Linked DNA regions of Homo sapiens: regions 1 and 2 are each reported to be linked to region 3. The links are microRNA targets in miRTarBase. Many come from high-throughput screens and were not tested one by one. Region 3 holds a microRNA gene; each other region holds the end of a gene's coding sequence.
What was found. Region 3 holds the annotated microRNA hsa-miR-6886-5p (CCCGCAGGUGAGAUGAGGGCU, at 2,224-2,244, shown strand). A microRNA usually pairs through its seed, bases 2 to 8, with sites in the 3' UTR of a target mRNA and lowers its output. Matches are read on the target gene's strand: a 7mer-m8 pairs with bases 2 to 8, a 7mer-A1 pairs with bases 2 to 7 and ends in A, and an 8mer does both.

Region 1: the mRNA of STK40 is a reported target of hsa-miR-6886-5p. Seed matches in the 3' UTR shown: 7mer-m8 at 2,572-2,578.
Region 2: miRTarBase lists ZFP91 as a target of hsa-miR-6886-5p. Seed matches in the 3' UTR shown: 7mer-m8 at 1,963-1,969.

Annotation. Positions count from the first base shown.
Region 1 is chr1:36,335,331-36,342,617 of GRCh38, reverse strand. It overlaps STK40 (serine/threonine kinase 40), which reads left to right. Exons shown (of 11, transcript NM_001282547.2): 11 at 645-2,990. The coding sequence ends at 863. Among named protein-coding and RNA genes, the nearest start is that of EVA1B, 15 kb to the right of the region's middle.
Region 2 is chr11:58,616,183-58,623,446 of GRCh38, forward strand. It overlaps ZFP91 (ZFP91 zinc finger protein, atypical E3 ubiquitin ligase), which reads left to right. Exons shown (of 11, transcript NM_053023.5): 10 at 534-633; 11 at 1,014-5,368. The coding sequence ends at 1,524. CNTF (ciliary neurotrophic factor) reads left to right here and starts at 6,483. Exons shown (of 2, transcript NM_000614.4): 1 at 6,483-6,684. The coding sequence starts at 6,571. It overlaps ZFP91-CNTF (ZFP91-CNTF readthrough (NMD candidate)), which reads left to right. Exons shown (of 13, transcript NR_024091.1): 10 at 534-633; 11 at 1,014-1,386; 12 at 6,584-6,684.
Region 3 is chr19:11,111,256-11,118,255 of GRCh38, forward strand. It overlaps MIR6886 (microRNA 6886), which reads left to right and starts at 2,219; the gene lies at 2,219-2,279. It overlaps LDLR (low density lipoprotein receptor), which reads left to right. Exons shown (of 18, transcript NM_000527.5): 8 at 259-384; 9 at 2,023-2,194; 10 at 2,280-2,507; 11 at 4,839-4,957; 12 at 5,604-5,743.

The DNA.
Region 1 (7,287 bases), not on the chromosome of region 3:
CATTCAGCCCTCACTGCGGGCCTGCGTGGCCTGTGTTCTTAGCCCCATGTTACAGAAGAGGAAACAGGGTTAGAGAGGACTTTCCCAAAGCCACACAGCTTAGAAGTAGTGGAGCTAAGCCTTGAACCCAAGTCTCATCCGGAAGCCCTGCTGTCTCCTGTGGTGACTGGCACGGGGACACCACTTCAGCTTCTGTTACCATCTGCCTAGACCATCCCAGGGAGCTCAGCATGGGGCCCTGCGTATGTGGCTCCTCCAGGTGCTGCGCCCCCAGCCCAGGGCTTGCTCGTACCTCTTGACGTGCATTAGCCGCCTCAGGGCTCAGAGAACCTTTGCGAGGGGCCAGACAGCTAAGGCTTCTGAGGTAAAGTGACCTCTCACGCAGCCAGTGAGTTAGGAAGCATGAGTCTGCGTCAGTCCCGGGTCCGCAGGGCGGCCTGCAAGGGGAGTTGAGGTTGGCTGGAGGGGGTCAGGGACCCACCCTCAGCGCCACTCCCACCCCCGGCCTTGAGGCCTGAGGGTGTGGTGCCTGGAAGGGTGACTGCAGGAGCCAGGCTGCCAGCACTCTTGCCTGCCCTCCTGTCTGCTGCGCTGCCTTCATCTGGGTTTATCTTTGTCTCCTTCCCACCCTCCCCGCCTCAAAGGCGAAGGTGACGGAGGAGTGCTCCCAGTACGAGTTTGAGAACTACATGCGTCAGCAGCTGCTGCTGGCCGAGGAGAAGAGCTCCATCCATGACGCCCGGAGCTGGGTACCCAAGCGGCAGTTCGGCAGCGCACCACCGGTGCGACGGCTGGGCCACGACGCACAGCCCATGACCTCCTTGGACACGGCCATCCTGGCGCAGCGCTACCTGCGGAAATAACAGCCTCAGCCGGGGCCACCAGCACTGCTGCCACTTCTTCCAGCCCCAGCCAAAGGCGTGGCTGTCAGGGCTGGGCCCTGTAGTGCTGGACTCTCCCGGGCCACAATAGGGACAGGGCAGGGACAGGGACAGCCCAGGTCACACGTGGGGTCAGCAGAGGTACCACGAAGCTACCTTTTGGGATGATTGCTCGATTGTTTGGTTTTTAAATCTGAGAAGCCTAGATAACTAATCTGCTTTTAATCACGATGTTTTAATCTACCTCTGTCTCTTTAACCATGCTGTCTCTGGACTGAGCAAGAGGGAGGAGGGAGCCTGCTCACCCCACTCCAGGGCCTTCCCCAGCGGCCACCAACTGACCTGGGGCGCTGCTCCCCACAGTCCAAATAAGCTGAAAGTGCAGCTCGCTGCAGGCCCCAGAGCGAGCTTCCCCTCCTCCCTGCTCTCCCAGGCCCCTGCCACAGCCTCTTTCCGTCCCTCTCTTTCTGATCCAGGCCCCTCAGTCCAAGCTTTGGAAAACCTTCACCTCATCTTAAACCGAACTCAAATATATTTATTTTTTTACCATACCAACTTCTCTCCCATCTCTAGGTGGCTCAGTCCATGGCCACTCCCTGCCCCCAGCCTGGCTGGACAGCAAGGAATCCACAGCCCACACGTGAGCTCCCTCCTCACCCCCAGGCAGGGAAGCCCCTCCTGCCAGTCCCTGTCCCCTTTCAGCCCACCAGTCCCTCTCTGCTGCCGGTGATGGGAGGCCTTTCTAGACCTGGCTCTTTCTCTCCCGTCTCAGTGGCTTCTCTGAGGTGCTGTACACGCGCGTTAACCTGTTCCCTTCTCTATCCTTCCCCGTGGTACTGAGCTCACGTGGACTCCCAGTGCGAAGGGGCCCATGGGTTGGGCTGCAGGCCTGGCCGTGAGCGGGGGCTGCCTGCACGCTCCCCTAGCCTACTCTTGTGTTTAGGGGATGGTGGGAACATATCCCAGTGCCCTTGCCTCATAATAGATGTGGTGACTCTCCCGGTAGACCCTAGCAAGGGTCCTCCATGGTGGTGAGGGACTCAGGAGAATTGTAGGGATTGGGGGACCCTGCCTGCCTGGCTTGAGAACAGCCCTGCTGCCCTTTTGAGCCGAGATTTTGAAGTGGATGCCCGTCTTGCCAGAAATGCTGTTCTCACCAGAATGCCCCCTCCCCTTGCCCTTACTGGACTTGGCCCTGCCTGATGCCAAGCAAAGACCCTTCCCCAGAGGCCTACCCCCCATATGTCCTCAGAGAGGCTGAGTGTCCCCTCCAGGCAGTCATGGGCCCTGAGGCCCCTCCTGCCTGGCCCTGCTCCCCAGTGGGGAGGTGACTGTGTTTCCCAGAGTGTGAGCCGCTCTCCTCCCCCTAAAAAGCTGACTCACTGTGAGTGACCTTGGGCAAGTTCCCAAACCTCCTTGTGCCTCAGTTTCCCCATCTGGAAAAAATGGGGCCACCTCTTGCCAGCAGTAGCAGGGCTGCCCACGCCCCTTTCTCCCCATGCCCCATCCAGCACTTGGGCGACTCATGCCTCTGCCTCAGTGGGCCTGTGGGAGCCTACTGGAGCCCAGCACTTACTCCCCCTGAGCAGCGAGCCTGCGTCTGTCTCAGCTGTCCAGCGCTGAGGGCCAGGGTCTTGTGCTGTGGGGCTGGGGGATGCCCTCTTTTCTATATTTATTTCATAGAAAGTCTCCTGCGGGAGCGGAAATGCAGTCCGGCCTAGGGCTCCCAGCCCTTGACTGTCCTCCTGTGAGGGCCTGAAGCTGGGCCAGGGCCCGTCGCAGCGGAGCCCCCTCTCAGCAGCCCACCGGGTCCCTCCAGGCTGCTGCCCGTGCGTGGTCTTTCTCCTCCTTTTCAAAGCAATAGCCGCCGGGTCTGCAAAGCCCTGTCAGACAGACTGGGCCCTTCCAAGGTCAAGCCATGTGTCTGATGACATTCCTGGTGAAGCAAAGGAGAGGAGGATGGGTCAGCCCTCACTGGGTGTCACACACTGAGAGAAGTCCTATTGTAAAGAAACGGAAAAAGTCACAAAAAAGTTTGTATAAAGACATATTTTTGTACTACATGGGGACTCTTCCTGCATGTCAGCAATAAAACTTCCTGATCTGGAACCACTGTGGCCTGCGTCTCCTGCCTTCTTGCCTTCCCTGCCTACATCTCGGCCTCTCCAGCCCCGACCCAGCCCCATCCCTCTCCATCCCAGCTGAGTGGTGCAGGATTCCCAACTGGCTTCCTGCAGCTCTGAGTGTGCCCCCTCCCTGCTCCCCGCAGCCAGCGGGTGGCACCTGGCACCACTGTCTTGGCGGGGGAGGGGAACCTGAAGTGCCCAGCAGTCTCTTGAGACCTGTGCATCTGCCCACTGCCCAAGTGAGAGCTCCCTGCTTGGCTTGGCTCACCCTCTGACCTTGCATGCAGGAGGCAGCGGGGCATCCCAGCACCACAGCAGCTGAAGGGTATTGATCCTCTCTGCTGAACTCCATCTGGGGTAGGGGAGCCTGCTGCCCCAGACAGACTGCCCATGTGCCCATCCAGGGCAGCCAGGGAAGGAGAAGGCCCAGCCAGGCCTCTTCCTGCTCCACCCTCCCCCTCCCTCTCCTCAATAGGAAGCCAAGGGCTTCCTTCCTTCCTTTCTTTCCTTCCTTCCTTTGCTTAAATTTAGACTTTGGGCCGGGCACGGTGGTTCATGCCTGTCATCCTAGCACTTTGGGAGGCCGAAGCGGGTGGATCATGAGGTCAGGAGTTCAAGACCAGCCTGGCCAAGATGGTGAAACCCTGTCTCTACCAAAAATACAAAAATTAGCCAGGCATGGTGGCAGGTGCCTGTAATCCCAGCTATTCAGGAGGCTGGGGCAGAGAATTGCTTGAACCCGGGAGGTGGAGGTTGCAGTGAGCCGAGATCACGCCACTGCACTCCAAGCCTGGGCAATGGAGTGAGACTCCATCTCAAAAAAGAAAAAAAATTTAGACTTTGCAGATTGCACTTCATTCTAGCAATGAAGCTAGAGGTAGGCTGGCCCCTCCCCCGGCACACCACAGCACCCACGCGGACACACTTCTGTGTCCAGGAGCCCATACCCAGGCCACTCAAGGAACAAGATCTGTGCAGGCAGAGCCCCTTCCCAGTCAAGGGTCCACAGACCAAGAGGGGCACCTCCAAGATGTGAGAAGGCTCTGATCCTCTGCAGTGCTTCAGAGCACAGCCCCAGGCCCCTCACTCCTCCACCTCACAGTTCCACACCTGCCCCAGCAGCCAGCTGTCCAAAGATTTTGCCCATTACATTTGGCCCATGCCTTACCCATCCTGGATGCTCTGCTGGGAGGTGCCCCTGCTCCCAGCCCACCAGTGCCACTCTCAGCTCTGGACCTTGTCTCTATGTTCAGCCTCACTCCTGTCCCGCCACCCATTAAGCCTCTGTTCAGGGCACAGATACCTCCTGGACACCTACACGTGTCACTCTTACATTCAGCAAAACACTAGACAGCAAGCGCCCTACAGGCAGGGGCTTCGTTTTGCTCACCCTTACCTCCTCAGCACCTGGGTCTGGGCCTGTACACTCTGGCACTCCTGAACAGTTTGGTGTATTGATCTAAACTGTTTCTTGGCTGTGAGTTGGTCAATTTAACGAAAACAAAAGTGAACTTCTTGGATCGCTGTTCCTCACAGGTTTCACTATGAGCCCTGTGGCAGCAAAGGAAAAAGAAAGTACCAGAAGGATGGGTGGGACCAGTGCGGCCACACTGACCACTCGCGTGCTCCTGAAAGGTCAAACCAAATGAGAACTGCGAAGCTGGCATCCCCTTTGGCCACCCTGGTCTCCAGTGTCCCTGGGAAGAGCCAGGGACACTGGCTGGACCTGTCAAACTAGCAGAAGTGGAAAGGGAGTGAGGAATGGTCTTGGTGGCTGGATTGTTCAGGCTCTGAAGCCAAGTTGGCCTGACTTTCTCTGTCCCTCCGTCCCTCCTTCCCTCCCTCCCTCTCATCCTTCTCTCTCACACCCCATGTCCAATCCACTGCTACTCCTGTTGGCTGGCCCTACCTTCAGAACACGGGCAGAATCTGACCATTTGTCACAGCTCCACTGCAACCACCCTAAGCCTCCATCTCTGGCCTCCTGGTCTCCCACTCTTCCCCTGCCACAGTCCAGGCACCACGTGGTAGCCAGAGTGAGCCTTTAAAAACCTGACTGTGTCCCTCTTCTGTTTACAACCCTCTGATGGCTTACCCTCCATGCAGGAGAAAATCCAAAGGTCTGTGTGGCTTGTAAGGCTCTACACCATGAGTCTGCACACTTGGGTACCTCCCCACCTTCTCAGCCCTTCACCCCTCACTCTATTCCTGCTGCTTGGGCCCCCTGATCCTGAACAAGCCAAGCATGCTTCCACCGCACGGCCTCTGTGTAAGGTTAGCCGAGAGAAAGGATGAGTAGGCTCAAAGTCAGGTAAGCAATTTTTATTCGTCCTGCCAGGCTGCTCCTTGACAGGCAGAGGAGGCAGCCCCACTTACAGACTGCAGCAGGGCTTTACAGGGCGAGGAACTGGGTCGGGGTGTGTGAACCGAGTTGGGGGTGCAGGTGTCTTGACTGCGTCCTGGAGATAGTTTTGCCAGCTTTGGTTAGCAGGTGTTCTGACCGCATCTTGGAACTGTCTGCCAGTTCAGCTGAAGTCTTCTGGACAAACAGTTACTCTCGAAGGGTCAGTTGTGGCGGGGGGTTTGCCTTTAGCCCTGGGGGAGCTATGCGGAGGTCACAAAGGACTGTATTGTAAGACCTTTGCGAAAGGAGGAGAACAGTCTGGTCGGGGTGACCCTAACATTCCAGCTTTTAATAGTTGATAGAAAAGGGGGCGTTGTTCTCATCAGGCTGCTTCTAGCTGAGAGGGAGCGGTGGTTAGGGGGAGAGGCTGGAAGGTAGGGGTTGGTTTGGGTTCTGGCTTTGAAATTGTTGGTATTCTTGGAGTAGCATCATGTCTTGTATGGTTCTGTGGATGAAGGCTCGGATGCGCTTCTGTAAAAACTGGGTAAAGAGACCGGGCGCCGTGGCTCACGCCTGTAATCCCAACACTTTGGGAGGCCGAGGCAGGTGGATCACGAGGTCAGGAGATCGAGACCATCCTGGCTAACGCGGTGAAGCCCCGTCTCTACTAAATATACAAAAAATTAGCCAGACATAGTGGCGGGCACCTGTAGTCCCAGCTACCTGGGAGGCTGAGGCAGGAGAATGGTGTGAACCCAGGAGGCGGAGCTTGCAGTGGGCAGAGATTGCGCCACTGCACTCCAGCCTGGGTGCCAGAGCGAGACTCTGCCTCAAAAAAATAAAATAAAATAAAATAAATAAAAAATTAAGAAAACACTGGGTAAAGAGACATAAGAGGCAGGACCCAAAGATTAGAAGGAGAATGATTATGACAGGTCCAAGGAGTGGGAGTAGCCAGGAGGCCCAGGAGCTGAAGGGCCATAGGGGCCAGGAGGGCCAGGGGGAAGAACTGTTTTCCCTGATTTTTGAGCCCGGTCCTTTAATTTTTTAACTGCATCTTGAACCAGGCCTGACTGAAATAGAAGCAGCATTCTTCATCTAGGAAGACGCAGATACCTCCTTTTTCTGCGGTAAGTAAATCGAGGCCCCTGCGGCTTTGAAGACCTACTGCGGCTAGGGAGTCTAGTTGGGCCTGGAGGGTTGATACAGTGGATGCTAGGTCATCAGTGTTATCAGAGAGGTCCTTGGATAGGGATTTGTAGTAATAGGTAGAGGTTGCAATTCCTGCGACTCTAGTTCTTGCAGCTGCCATAATGCCTAACCCTATTAGCAGGGGTATAAGCTGTATGGCTCAGCGTCTGCGGGATAATGTTTGAATTTGGAAGGGTAAGGGTCTATCCCCAGGGGCTATGTCTATTTTTGGACTAAGGAAGACTAGCGTGCAGGTTCCTGTCCAGTTAGTGGGTAAGCAGAGCTAGGTGGAAGTGCCACAGAGAAAGAATATGCCCTGGCTAGGAAGGCAAAATTGGAGGTCTTTGGCAAAGAGGGGCTTTAGGATCTTGTTTTCTGATCGCCAAGCGGAGAGAGAGGAAGACAGGGCCGCCCCGGTGAGTGGTTGGAAGGGATGGGTTGAGGTTAGTTGGCTAGCCCTACTGTTTTGTTTTCCCAGTGTAGGAGGAAATATTATGTGTCCACTAAAAGTTTTTCCCCAGTGGGGGCTCTGGCTACCTGAGTTGTGGACAGTTGGAGGCTGGGCGGGGGCTAGGGCATGGAGTCCATCCTGCAATTATCATACAGGGTTTGTGTGGATTGATGCAGAAACCTGAGTTTATTGTGTTGAGATTAGTGGTTTGTATTTTTGGGGGACCAGAAATTTTGAGTATTTGAGTGGGATTGTATACTGTTAGCGGCTGGATACCAGCAGGTGGGCTGAGTT
Region 2 (7,264 bases), not on the chromosome of region 3:
TTTTGAGAAAAGTTTATCTTGAGTAACATTTTTTAAACCTGAAACAGGGTATGATTACCTTTAGATCAGTTTTCTTCTATACAGTGCCAAGTTCTTGTTTTTTGTTTTTGTTTTGTTTGAATGCCAGATTCTTTCTGTGTAATCATTCAGTTTTCATTGTCTGTGAAAAAAATTGTTTACTCCTTAAAGGAGTAAAATATATGGAAAATATAGTTGTTTACTTGCTAACCACTTGGTATCCAAGACCTGGATTAGTGGTAAAATTGAGATTAGGATTCCATTTCTTATATTTTTATCTAGTTTTTCTGTTTGTTTTTGTTTTTTTTTAAACAGGTCCTTATGCTACTGAATGTTGGATTTTTTTTAAAGCAATACTTTTCTTTTTTAAATTTTGTTTACCCAAAGTGTTTATACATTGAAAACAGCATTGCTTTTACTCTAAATTGCCTGCCCCATCATCTGCTTACTTACTGTAAGGGAAAATATTTACAGGGTATCTAAATAGAACACTAACCACAGTATTTTCTTCATAGATCAAAGGGATTATATCTGTGAATATTGTGCTCGGGCCTTCAAGAGTTCCCACAATCTGGCAGTGCACCGGATGATTCACACTGGCGAGAAGCCATTACAGTGAGTATTATTTACTGGTGAACATCTGGGTGAGAAGGATATATGCCCTACTTGAAGGTTTGCCGCTTTACAAACATATTAGTTGCCACTGCTGTTTACTTTCATCAAATAAATGAGTGGATATTGATTGGGGGCATTAGTTAGTAGCCTTTTTCTTAGTTTCCCTCTGTTTTTCAGGCAAACAGAAGAAGATCAGATTAGTTTTCCATCTAGTAACATTTCCCAATCCTTCAAAAGAAGTATGTTACTGATTATTGTGTGTGTGTGTGTGTGTGTGTGTGTGTATGTATATATATGCTCTAAACTCTAACCCTGATCCTGAATAAGAGCACTCTTTATTTCTCTGTTGGATCAGCCATTTCCTTTTCTCCTCTCCTTAGATGTGAGATCTGTGGATTTACTTGTCGACAAAAGGCATCTCTTAATTGGCACATGAAGAAACATGATGCAGACTCCTTCTACCAGTTTTCTTGCAATATCTGTGGCAAAAAATTTGAGAAGAAGGACAGCGTAGTGGCACACAAGGCAAAAAGCCACCCTGAGGTGCTGATTGCAGAAGCTCTGGCTGCCAATGCAGGCGCCCTCATCACCAGCACAGATATCTTGGGCACTAACCCAGAGTCCCTGACGCAGCCTTCAGATGGTCAGGGTCTTCCTCTTCTTCCTGAGCCCTTGGGAAACTCAACCTCTGGAGAGTGCCTACTGTTAGAAGCTGAAGGGATGTCAAAGTCATACTGCAGTGGGACGGAACGGGTGAGCCTGATGGCTGATGGGAAGATCTTTGTGGGAAGCGGCAGCAGTGGAGGCACTGAAGGGCTGGTTATGAACTCAGATATACTCGGTGCTACCACAGAGGTTCTGATTGAAGATTCAGACTCTGCCGGACCTTAGTGGACAGGAAGACTTGGGGCATGGGACAGCTCAGACTTTGTATTTAAAAGTTAAAAAGGACAAAAAAAAAATCTAAAGCATTTAAAATCTAGTGAAATAACTGAAGGGCCTGCTCTTTCCATTGTGGATCACAGCACACACATACATACACCCTCCACCTCCCCATCCCCTGTTCTCCCTCTGTTGCTCCCCTTATAAAATTGATGTTGTCTTTACCAGAAAGGTAGACAAAAAAGAAGCAGCAGCAGCTCTTAAAGTGAGGGTTATTCTCATACTCGGTTCCAGCCATCAGCAGACTTCCTGCTCATCGGCAGATCCCCCTTTCCAACCTGTAACTCTGATGTGCTCTGGATCAGCTTTTAACTTTTAATCATATATTACTGTCTTCTAAATCCCTTCTCCTCCTCTACTGCTGCCCTATGGTTCTGGCTCCTACCCCCTGCGGCACACTTATCTTCAAATACCATAGAATTCTAATCTCTGGAGGCTGGCAGCTTGACTTGGCACTTTAGGGCCCCTTAGCAGGGTGAGCTGTTAAAACAGCACACATCTCTCATCCCCTCTTCCTTTATTCCCCCCTGGGTTTCAGAAAGGAAGGATATATGGGGACCACCTCCCCCTTCTTTGATCCCAGCATCTCAGTCCCCCTCCCAACCCTCCATATGGCTCTCAATGGTGCTCACTTGCTTGGAAGCAGGCTCCCAATAGGGAGGGGGCTGCCCTCTACAGTCTCTTTGACTGTAAGACAGGGCTCTGTATCAGTGAGACGATGAGAAAAGTCCCAGGCTAATGGCAGAAATTTGCACTTTGAACATGTGTGTTTTTGTGTTGTGGAACCTGAGATTCCTTATTTATTAACAGGAAGTCTGATTTTTTTTTTTTGGAGTCTTTGTTGCTATATTTTGTGGGGCTGGGAGAGAGAGATTAGATTATTTTGACATGGGATCCCTTCCATAACAGGTACTTTGAAGGCAAGACATAGGGTTGAAGAAGCACAGCCAGCCTCTGAAATCATAGCTCTCCAGTGGCTTTTAAAGAAAGCTGGTCCTCAGCACTAACAAAATCACTACAATAGCCTAGTGCTTTTTTGGAAGCCTTTTTAGGGAAGAATGTTAGGTTCATGGTAACTAGTATGCTCTTTGAGATTTTTACAGTGTTGAAACTTAAGAATTTTGAGAGGGTGAGGAGGGTTGTTCAGAATCTAAATTACAGATAGATGATTGTTTCTTGTGAATTTGTTTCTTTTCCTTTTTTTTTGTCCCTACCATTTCCTTACATTTCCCTTGGGGCCCATCTCTGGCTCCTTGCTTTTTGTTTCTTGCTTTGCTTTATCAGTTCATTCCAGCTCCCTGTTAGTGAAGGACACTGCTGTTAGTGAAGGAACAAAGTCTATGAGTCCTAAAATTTTAAGTCAAAGAAAACTGCTCTGTTTCCCCTTTAGTAACACTTCTGAAGAGGAAAAACTTCAATAGCCAAAGTTAATAATCCTATATAATAATTGCTTTGGCTTTCACCTAAAATTCTGGGCATCACAATTTCCTTGGGATAGAGGTTGTGTTGGGGAATAGATTGCTTATTGCTGTTCACTGGAGAGAAAAGGTAGTGTTTTTGTACAAGGTCATACCGCCAGAAGCCCCAAATCCTATTTTGGCTCATCTTCAGGTAAAGAGTAATTCCTATCCTGTGTGCCTCAGAAGCTAGAATCGAAGGCTTACCCTATTCATTGTTTATTGTCAGAAATGCATGATGGCTCTTGGAAAGAATGACGTTTTGCTGGAAAAAAAAAAAAGAACAGTTTGTGTTTCACAAACATGGCTTATCAATTTTTTCAAAGAATTCTTTTTTCCCAAAAAGAGGAGTAACAAAATGTCATTTCTGAAAGAGGCTTACTTTATACCAACTAGTGTCAGCATTTGGGATGCCAGGGAACAGAGAGTGAGACACCTACAATCACCAGTCTCAAATGCGCTATTGTTTCTTTTCAGAGTGTTGCAGATTTGCCATTTCTCCATAATATGGGGATAGAAAATGGAATAAAGATAGAAGGGATGTAGAATATGCTTTCCTGCCAACATGGTTTGGAGTCGACTTTGGTATATTGACTAGATTTGAAAATACAAGATTGATTAGATGAATCTACAAAAAAGTTGTCCTCCTCTCAGGTCCCTTTTACACTTTTTGACTAACTAGCATCTATATTCCACACTTAGCTTTTTTGTCACACTTATCCTTTGTCTCCGTAAATTTCATTTGCAGTGGTTAGTCATCAGATATTTTAGCCACCTACACAAAAGCAAACTGCATTTTTAAAAATCTTTCTGAGATGGGAGAAAATGTATTCTCCTTTCCTATACCGCTCTCCCAACAAAAAAACAACTAGTTAGTTCTACTAATTAGAAACTTGCTGTACTTTTTCTTTTCTTTTAGGGGTCAAGGACCCTCTTTATAGCTACCATTTGCCTACAATAAATTATTGCAGCAGTTTGCAATACTAAAATATTTTTTATAGACTTTATATTTTTCCTTTTGATAAAGGGATGCTGCATAGTAGAGTTGGTGTAATTAAACTATCTCAGCCGTTTCCCTGCTTTCCCTTCTGCTCCATATGCCTCATTGTCCTTCCAGGGAGCTCTTTTAATCTTAAAGTTCTACATTTCATGCTCTTAGTCAAATTCTGTTACCTTTTTAATAACTCTTCCCACTGCATATTTCCATCTTGAATTGGTGGTTCTAAATTCTGAAACTGTAGTTGAGATACAGCTATTTAATATTTCTGGGAGATGTGCATCCCTCTTCTTTGTGGTTGCCCAAGGTTGTTTTGCGTAACTGAGACTCCTTGATATGCTTCAGAGAATTTAGGCAAACACTGGCCATGGCCGTGGGAGTACTGGGAGTAAAATAAAAATATCGAGGTATAGACTAGCATCCACATAGAGCACTTGAACCTCCTTTGTACCTGTTTGGGGAAAAAGTATAATGAGTGTACTACCAATCTAACTAAGATTATTATAGTCTGGTTGTTTGAAATACCATTTTTTTCTCCTTTTGTGTTTTTCCCACTTTCCAATGTACTCAAGAAAATTGAACAAATGTAATGGATCAATTTAAAATATTTTATTTCTTAAAAGCCTTTTTTGCCTGTTGTAATGTGCAGGACCCTTCTCCTTTCATGGGAGAGACAGGTAGTTACCTGAATATAGGTTGAAAAGGTTATGTAAAAAGAAATTATAATAAAAGGGATACTTTGCTTTTCAAATCTTTGTTTTCTCTTATTCTAGGTAAGGCATATTAAAAATAAATATGTAAAGAAGAAAAATAAAAGTTGTCTTCATGGAAGCAACTTGTCTTCCTTGGTTGTACTGAGTTACAGTTATCCTAGGGGTGAAACATGTGATGCTGCTAAGCAAACCAAATGCCCTCAGAACAGGTGTTATGTGGGGCATACTATTGTTTGCTTTTGTTGAGAATCAGGTGGTTAATTTTTGACTGTTCTTGATTTCTAATGCTGAAATGACATGATTCTGTTATTCAGCAAACTTGGAAATCTTGATGTTTTGACAACTGCCTCCTAGGAAAACTGGCCATATGTTAATTAACCTAGTAGATGGAAAATTAAGGATTATGTGAGGTTAATTTTACCCTGATAATGACAAAACCTTGATAGCATTTAATATTAATACTTCTTCTCAAAATTGAATGTTTATATCAAGTACTGATTTTTATTTTAAAAAAGAAAAAACTATAATCCTTCTGCCTTCCAAAAGCCATGCTGTGATAGCTGCCCAGGCTGCTCTGTTACATCTCCCATTTATTGTTTACTTTTATAAATTTGCTTCTAAGATGGTATGTGTTTCAGCTTATTGGCAATATCTATGATATAAATAATGAAAGCTAATTATTTCATTTAGCCCTTACCCAATAAGCATCATTTTCTAAGTTAAATGCAATAGAATGACAACCCTCCAAGTACCTTTTAACTTTTATACTGTCATTTCAAAGCCCAGCTCATTCTCTTATTTTAAGAAGCATGTGGTATGACTGGGTAGGGGAGAAAAAAGGAAAGCATGTTGTCACTTGAGTGAGACTGCTTTAGAAATGTTACCAAGTTAGCGTTGGGTGTTTCCTGTTCTTTGGAAGAGAACAGGCCTAAACAGTACCTTCCTCCTCCTATGTAGCTACCAGGAAGGCACCGTGATTGAAATTAGAGATGCTTCCTTGCTTGATTTTTAAGTATAAATTAAATTACCTTTAAAAAGTACGTAAGGTTAGGAGTGAAAAAAATCCTGTTTTTAAAGGACTTCACACACCCTTTGTTTCTTGAACAAGATGTGAACTACCTAAACAGAAAATGAAATTGGAAAGTCAGTGGGAGAGACAACTATAGAATCAGACTTCTATTTAAATTCAAGCCTCGTTACTTGATTTTGTGCATGTTATTTCTTGAAGTTTCAGTTTCTTATATGGAGAAATAACATTTACCTCAGAAATATTCTGAAGATCAAATGGAATTGCTTTAAAGTATTTAGCTTACTGACTGACCCATGGTAGATACTTAATAAATGGCAGCTGTGTCAATAACAATTTTATTGAATGAACATTTCGCCAGCCTATGAGAAAAAAGACATGGGAAGCATAAGGGAGAATGATAATAAAATGAACTAATTCTAAGTGTGTGAGATAGATTACATTAGGCAGGGGTGCCATGAGGATTGGTATGATAGTGACCTTGTTGCTAAGTGCAAAAGCAAAACAATGACATAGAAACAAGTGTGCTAAGTACTGAGTGGAGGAGAGAGATGGAGGCAGACGCTGCAGGGGAAAAAAAATCTGATTAAAAAGGGCCCTTTGATTCCACAGGCACAAAAATCCACAGCCAGGAATTTGCTACCTCCTCTGAGTCAGGCAGGGCGTGGGGGTGGGGTGCACAATCCCATTAGTAGAGAATGCCCAGTGGGTTTAGTCTTTGAGAGTCACATCTCTTATTTGGACCAGTATAGACAGAAGTAAACCCAGCTGACTTGTTTCCTGGGACAGTTGAGTTAAGGGATGGCTTTCACAGAGCATTCACCGCTGACCCCTCACCGTCGGGACCTCTGTAGCCGCTCTATCTGGCTAGCAAGGAAGATTCGTTCAGACCTGACTGCTCTTACGGAATCCTATGTAAGTTGCCTATTTTGCTGTTATCTGTTTTCCCTTCATCTTTTTTGATCCAGCAACTTACCATCACGCATCAGCTCCATTACCAATTGTGAAAGCTCTAATCATATAGTCATTCATATAGGTTATTTGACATGGGCCCTTCCCTTGAGGAAACCCATGTGACTTTATTTTCTTCCTCTGGGCTGTTTAGGAGATGAAGTTACTTGAATGAGAAAATATATATGGAGTTCTAGAAAGGATTGGTTTATATGTCTTGGAGGCTATTCCAAATTTATTGGCATATATTCTGAATACTACTAGAACAGATTAGCCATGGGCCCTCTGGGTTCTTCATAGCCATTGTTCTGAATTTTTTAGCTATGTAAATGAAAGGTTTATGGGATAGGAAGAGTACTATGAACGTGGGAGGAATTTGTAAATCCTACCAATTTCTCCTATATAGCATTAGCCACCCACCTTTTAGTATTCTGCATCAAAAGTAGATTGTGTCTAAAGAGAAAGGTAAGCTATCAAAAGGATCTCCTAGAAGATTCATTGGAAACTTGTGGAAGTGTCAAATTCTTGAGCTAATTCTGGAGTT
Region 3 (7,000 bases):
AAAAGAAAAGAAAAGAAAAAAAAGAAAAGAAATTTCAGCTGACACAGCTTCACACTCTTGGTTGGGTTCCCGTGGTGAATGATGAGGTCAGGTGATGACTGGGGATGACACCTGGCTGTTTCCTTGATTACATCTCCCGAGAGGCTGGGCTGTCTCCTGGCTGCCTTCGAAGGTGTGGGTTTTGGCCTGGGCCCCATCGCTCCGTCTCTAGCCATTGGGGAAGAGCCTCCCCACCAAGCCTCTTTCTCTCTCTTCCAGATATCGATGAGTGTCAGGATCCCGACACCTGCAGCCAGCTCTGCGTGAACCTGGAGGGTGGCTACAAGTGCCAGTGTGAGGAAGGCTTCCAGCTGGACCCCCACACGAAGGCCTGCAAGGCTGTGGGTGAGCACGGGAAGGCGGCGGGTGGGGGCGGCCTCACCCCTTGCAGGCAGCAGTGGTGGGGGAGTTTCATCCTCTGAACTTTGCACAGACTCATATCCCCTGACCGGGAGGCTGTTTGCTCCTGAGGGCTCTGGCAGGGGAGTCTGCCGCCCTGTTAGGACTTGGGCTTGCCAGGGGGATGCCTGCATATGTCCTAGTTTTTGGGAATATCCAGTTAACGGAACCCTCAGCCCTACTGGTGGAACAGGAACCGGCTTTCCTTTCAGGGACAACCTGGGGAGTGACTTCAAGGGGTTAAAGAAAAAAAATTAGCTGGGCATGGTGCCACACACCTGTGGTCCCAGCTACTCAGAAGGCTGAGGCGGGAGGATTGCTTGAGGGCAGGAGGATTGGTTGATCCTCCCACCTCAGCCTCCGGAGTAGCTGGGACCTCAGGTGCATGCCACTATGCCTGGCTAATTTTCTTTTTTCTTTTTTTTTTTTTTTCGAGACGGAGTCTCGCTCTGTTGCCCAGGCTGGAGTGCAGTGGCAGGATCTCGGCTCACTGCAAGCTCCGCCTCCCGGGTTCACGCCATTCTCCTGCCTCAGCCTCCCCAGTAGCTGGGACTACAGGAGCCCGCCACTGCACCAGGCCAATTTTTTTGTATTTTTAGTAGAGACGGGGTTTCACTGTGTTAGCCAGGATGGTCTCGATCTCCTGACTTCGTGATCCGCCCACCTCGGCCTTCCAAAGTGCTCGGATTACAGGCGTGAGCCACTGCGCCCAGCCGCTAATTTTCATATTTTTAGTAAAAACAGGGTTTCACCATGTTGGCCAGGCTAGTCTTGAACTCCTGAACCCAAGTGATCCTCCTGCCTTGGCCTCCCAAAGTGCTGGGATTACAGACACCACACCTGGCTATTATTATTTTTTAGAGACAGGGTGCTGCTCTATCTTCCAGCCTGTAGTGCAGTGCAGCCTCCATCATAGCTCGCTGCAGCCTTGACCTCCTGGGTTCACGTGATCGTCCCGCCTAAGCCTCTGGAGGAGCTGGGAGTACTGGCATGTGCCACCATGCCTGGTTAATTTTTTTTTTTTTTTTTTTGAGACAGAGTCTCATTCTGTCACCCAGGCTGGAGTGCGGTGGTGCGATCTTGGCTTACTGAAACCTCCACCTCCCAGGTTCCAGCAATTCTCCTGCCTCACCCTTCTGAGTAGCTGGGATTACAGGTTCCGGCTACCAAACCTGGCTAGTTTTTGTATGTTTAGTAGAGACAGGGTTTCACCATGTTGGTGAGGCTGGTCTCGATTCTCCCGCCTCAGCCTCCCAAAGTGCTGGGATTACAGGCTTGAGCCACCGTGCCTGGCTTTTTTTTTTTTTTTTTTTTTTGTGGCAATAAGGTCTCATTGTCTTGCCCAGGCTAGCCTTATGCTCCTAGCCTCAAGTGATCCTCCTCCCTCAGCCTCCCAAAGTGCTGGGATTACAGGTGGGCGCCACTGTGCCTGTTCCCGTTGGGAGGTCTTTTCCACCCTCTTTTTCTGGGTGCCTCCTCTGGCTCAGCCGCACCCTGCAGGATGACACAAGGGGATGGGGAGGCACTCTTGGTTCCATCGACGGGTCCCCTCTGACCCCCTGACCTCGCTCCCCGGACCCCCAGGCTCCATCGCCTACCTCTTCTTCACCAACCGGCACGAGGTCAGGAAGATGACGCTGGACCGGAGCGAGTACACCAGCCTCATCCCCAACCTGAGGAACGTGGTCGCTCTGGACACGGAGGTGGCCAGCAATAGAATCTACTGGTCTGACCTGTCCCAGAGAATGATCTGCAGGTGAGCGTCGCCCCTGCCTGCAGCCTTGGCCCGCAGGTGAGATGAGGGCTCCTGGCGCTGATGCCCTTCTCTCCTCCTGCCTCAGCACCCAGCTTGACAGAGCCCACGGCGTCTCTTCCTATGACACCGTCATCAGCAGAGACATCCAGGCCCCCGACGGGCTGGCTGTGGACTGGATCCACAGCAACATCTACTGGACCGACTCTGTCCTGGGCACTGTCTCTGTTGCGGATACCAAGGGCGTGAAGAGGAAAACGTTATTCAGGGAGAACGGCTCCAAGCCAAGGGCCATCGTGGTGGATCCTGTTCATGGGTGCGTATCCACGACGCTGAGGGCTGCAGAGGGAATGGAGGGAGCAGGAAGGAGCTTCAGGAACTGGTTAGTGGGCTGGGCATGGTGGCTCAAAGCACCTGTAATCCCAGCACTTTGGGAGGCCAAGGTGGGTGGATCATCAAGACCAGCCTGACCAACATGGTGAAACCTCGTCTCTACTAAAAATACAAAAATTAGCCGGGTGTGGTGGTGGGCACCTGTAATCCCAGCTGCTCGGGAGGCTGAGGCAGGAGAATCACTTGAACCTGGGAGATGGAGGTTGCAGTGAGCCAAGACAGCCCCACTGCACTCCAGCCTGGGTGACAGAGTGAGACTCCGTCTCAAAAAAAAAAAAAAAAACTAAACAAAAAACTGGTTAGTGGCTAGACAACAGGATGGTATCTTCCAAGCCCATGGCTGACTCAGCAGCTCCTGGGTCAAGACACTGTGACCTGTGTCCCCTGGCAGGAAGCATCGCCCCTGCCACCTGCCCGGTGTACTCTGTACCTGTCAGGTGACATCTGCTACCTAAGCACGTGAGAGGTGGCATTTCACAGTTTCAGTGTGGTGCTGACAACCCGGGACGCACACTGTCCTTGCAGCTACAATCAGGAGGTGAATGTTGGGTTTCCAGCAGAGAACACTGGAGAAGGCACACTTGGTGTCTGGAAGGGAAAAGCAGGGAAGAGAGCATCATCAGATGCCTGCGGGTGAAGGTGGGCCCGCTATGGCCAGCGTCCCTTTTTATTTTTATTTATTTATTTATTTGAGATGGAATCTCGCTCTGTCGCCCAGACTGTAGTGCAGTGGTGCGATCACGGCTCACTGCAAGCTCCGCCTCACAGGTTCACGCCATTCTCCTGCCTCAGCCTCCCGAGTAGCTGGGACTACAGGCACCCGCCACCACGCCCGGTTAATTTTTTGCATTTTTATTAGAGACGGGGTTTCACCGCGTTAGCCAGGATGGTCTAAATCTCCTGACCCTGTGATCCACCCGCCTCGGCCTCCCTAAGTGCTTGGATTACAAGCGTGAGCCACCACGCCCGGCCCCCTTTTTATTTTTTATTTTTTGAGACGGAGTCTCGCTCTGTCGCCCAGGCTAGATTGCAGTGGCGTGATCTCGGCTCACTGCAGCCTCCGCCTCCCAGGTTCAAGTGATTCTCCTGCCTCAACCTCCCAACTAATTAGGATTACAAGCATGTACCACCATGCCTGACTAATTTTTTGTATTTTTAGTAGAGACTGGGTTTCACCATGTTGGCTAGGCTGGTCTCGAACCCTTAGCCTCAAGTAATCTGCCTGCCTCAGCCTCCCAAACAGCGGGGATTACAGGCATGAGCCACTGTGCCCAACCCAACCCTGGATCTCTTTTAAACAAGACAATGCTCGCTGTTGCCACAGAACAATGGGTGGGGTACATGTGGCCCAGTGTGTTTGGCCACATAACTGCCAGGCCAGAGGGAAAGAGACTCTCAGACTGTCTCCACTCAGATACAAATGTGTGTGTTGTGTGCGTGTGTTCTGGTCTCATATTTGTTTGTTTTGAGACAGGGTGTCGCTCTGTCACTGAGTCTGGAGTGCAGTGGCGCAATCAGAGTTCACTGCAGCCTCAAACTCTTGGGCTCAGTTGATTCTCCCACTTCAGCCTCCCAAGTAGCTGGAACTACAGGTGAACACCACTGTGCCCAGCTAATTTATTTTATTTTTAGTAGAGATGAGGTCTCACTATGTTGCCCAGGCTGGTCTTGACCTCCTAGCCTCAAGCAATCCTCCTGCCTTGGTCTCCCAAAGTGCTGGGATTACACGTGCGAGCCATTGCGCATGGCTTGTGTTCTTGTGTTTCTTCCTTTTTCTTTCGAGATGGCGTCTCAGTCTGCCACCCAGGCTGGAGTGCAGTGGTGTGATCATAGCTCACTGTAGCCTCAACTTCCTGGGCTCAAGCAATCCTCTTGATTTCAGCCTCCCGGGCCTGGCCAGCATGGTGAAACCCCGTCTCTACTAAAAATACAAAAATGTAGCCAGGCGTGGTGGTGGGCGCCTGTAATCCCAGCTACACCAGAGGCTGAGGCAGGAGAATCGCTTGAGCCTGGAAGGTGGAGGTTGCAGCAAGCCAAGATCGTGCCACTGCACTCCAGCCTGGGCAACAGAGACAGACTCTGTCTCAAAAAAAAAAAAAAAAAACCCAAACAAGCCACATTTGGAGTTTGGGGTTCCCAGCAGGACTATTTCCCAAGCCTGAGCCTGGCTGTTTCTTCCAGAATTCGTTGCACGCATTGGCTGGGATCCTCCCCCGCCCTCCAGCCTCACAGCTATTCTCTGTCCTCCCACCAGCTTCATGTACTGGACTGACTGGGGAACTCCCGCCAAGATCAAGAAAGGGGGCCTGAATGGTGTGGACATCTACTCGCTGGTGACTGAAAACATTCAGTGGCCCAATGGCATCACCCTAGGTATGTTCGCAGGACAGCCGTCCCAGCCAGGGCCGGGCACAGGCTGGAGGACAGACGGGGGTTGCCAGGTGGCTCTGGGACAAGCCCAAGCTGCTCCCTGAAGGTTTCCCTCTTTCTTTTCTTTGTTTTTTCTTTTTTTGAGATGAGGTCTTGGTCTGTCACCCAGGCTGGAGTGCACTGGCGCAATCGTAGCTCACTGCAGCCTCCACCTCCCAGGCTCAAGTGATCCTCCTGCCTCACCCTCCTGAGTAGCTGAGATTACAGACACGTGCCACCACGGCAGACTAATTTTATTTTATTTTTGGGAAGAGACAAAGTCTTGTTATGTTGGCCTGGCTGGTCTCAAACTCAGGGTGCAAGCGATCCTCCCGCCTCAGCCTTCCAAACTGCTGGGATTACAGGCGTGGGCCACCGTACCCAGCCTCCTTGAAGTTTTTCTGACCTGCAACTCCCCTACCTGCCCATTGGAGAGGGCGTCACAGGGGAGGGGTTCAGGCTCACATGTGGTTGGAGCTGCCTCTCCAGGTGCTTTTCTGCTAGGTCCCTGGCAGGGGGTCTTCCTGCCCGGAGCAGCGTGGCCAGGCCCTCAGGACCCTCTGGGACTGGCATCAGCACGTGACCTCTCCTTATCCACTTGTGTGTCTAGATCTCCTCAGTGGCCGCCTCTACTGGGTTGACTCCAAACTTCACTCCATCTCAAGCATCGATGTCAACGGGGGCAACCGGAAGACCATCTTGGAGGATGAAAAGAGGCTGGCCCACCCCTTCTCCTTGGCCGTCTTTGAGGTGTGGCTTACGTACGAGATGCAAGCACTTAGGTGGCGGATAGACACAGACTATAGATCACTCAAGCCAAGATGAACGCAGAAAACTGGTTGTGACTAGGAGGAGGTCTTAGACCTGAGTTATTTCTATTTTCTTCTTTCTTTTTTTTTTTTTTTTTGAGACAGAGTTTTGCTCTCGTTTCCCAGGCTGGAGGGCAATGGCATGATCTCGGCTCACCGCAACCTCCACCTCCCAGGTTCAAGTGATTCTCCTGTCTCAGGCTCCCCAGTAGCTGGGATTACAGGCATGCACCACCACCATGCCCGGCTAATTTTGTATTTTTAGTAGAGACGGAGTTTCTCCATGTTGGTCAGGCTGGTCTCGAACTCCCGACCTCAGGTGATCTGCCTGCCTCGGCCTCCCAAAGTGCTGGGATTACAGACTTGAGCCACCGCGCCCAGCTATTTCTGTTTTCTTTCTTTCTTCTTCTTCTTTTTTTTTTTCTAAGAGACAGGATCTCACTCTGTCCCCAGGCAGGAGTGCAGTGCTGTGATCATAGCTCACTGCAGCCTTAACCTCCTGGGCTCAAGTGATCTTCCCACCTCAGCCTCCCAAGTAGCTGGAACTACAGGTGCACACCACCATGCCCAGCTCATTTTTGTATTTTTTTTTTTTTTGAGACAGTCTCGTTCTGTCACCCCGGCTGGAGTGCAGTGGTACAATCTTGGCTCACTGCAACCTCTGCCTCCCAGGTTCAAGCGATTCTCCTGCCTCAGCCTCCTGAGTAGTTGAGATTACAGGCATGTGTGCCATCATACCTGGCTGATTTTTGTATTTTTTTTTAGAGATGGGGTCTCAGTATGTTGACCAGGCTTGTCTTAAACTCCCGGCCTCAAGTGATCCTCCCACTTCAGTCTCCCAAAGTGCTGGGATTACAGGCATGAGCCACTGCGGCCGGTTTGTTTTCTTTTTTTTTTCGTTTTTTGGAGACGGAATTTCACCTTTGTTGCCCAGGATGGAGTGCAATGGCACGATATCGCCTCACCACAACCTCTGCCTCCTGGGTTCAAACCATTTTCCTGCCTCAGCCTTCTTAGTAGCTGGGATTACAAGCATGTGCCACCACGCCCGGCTGATTTTGTATTTTTAGTAGAGATGGGGTTTCTCCATGTTGGCCAGGCTGGTCTCGAACTCCTGACCTCAGGTCATTCGCCCACCTCTGCCTCCCAAAGTGCTGGGATTACAGGCGTGAGCCACCGTGCCCGGTGGTTTGTATTC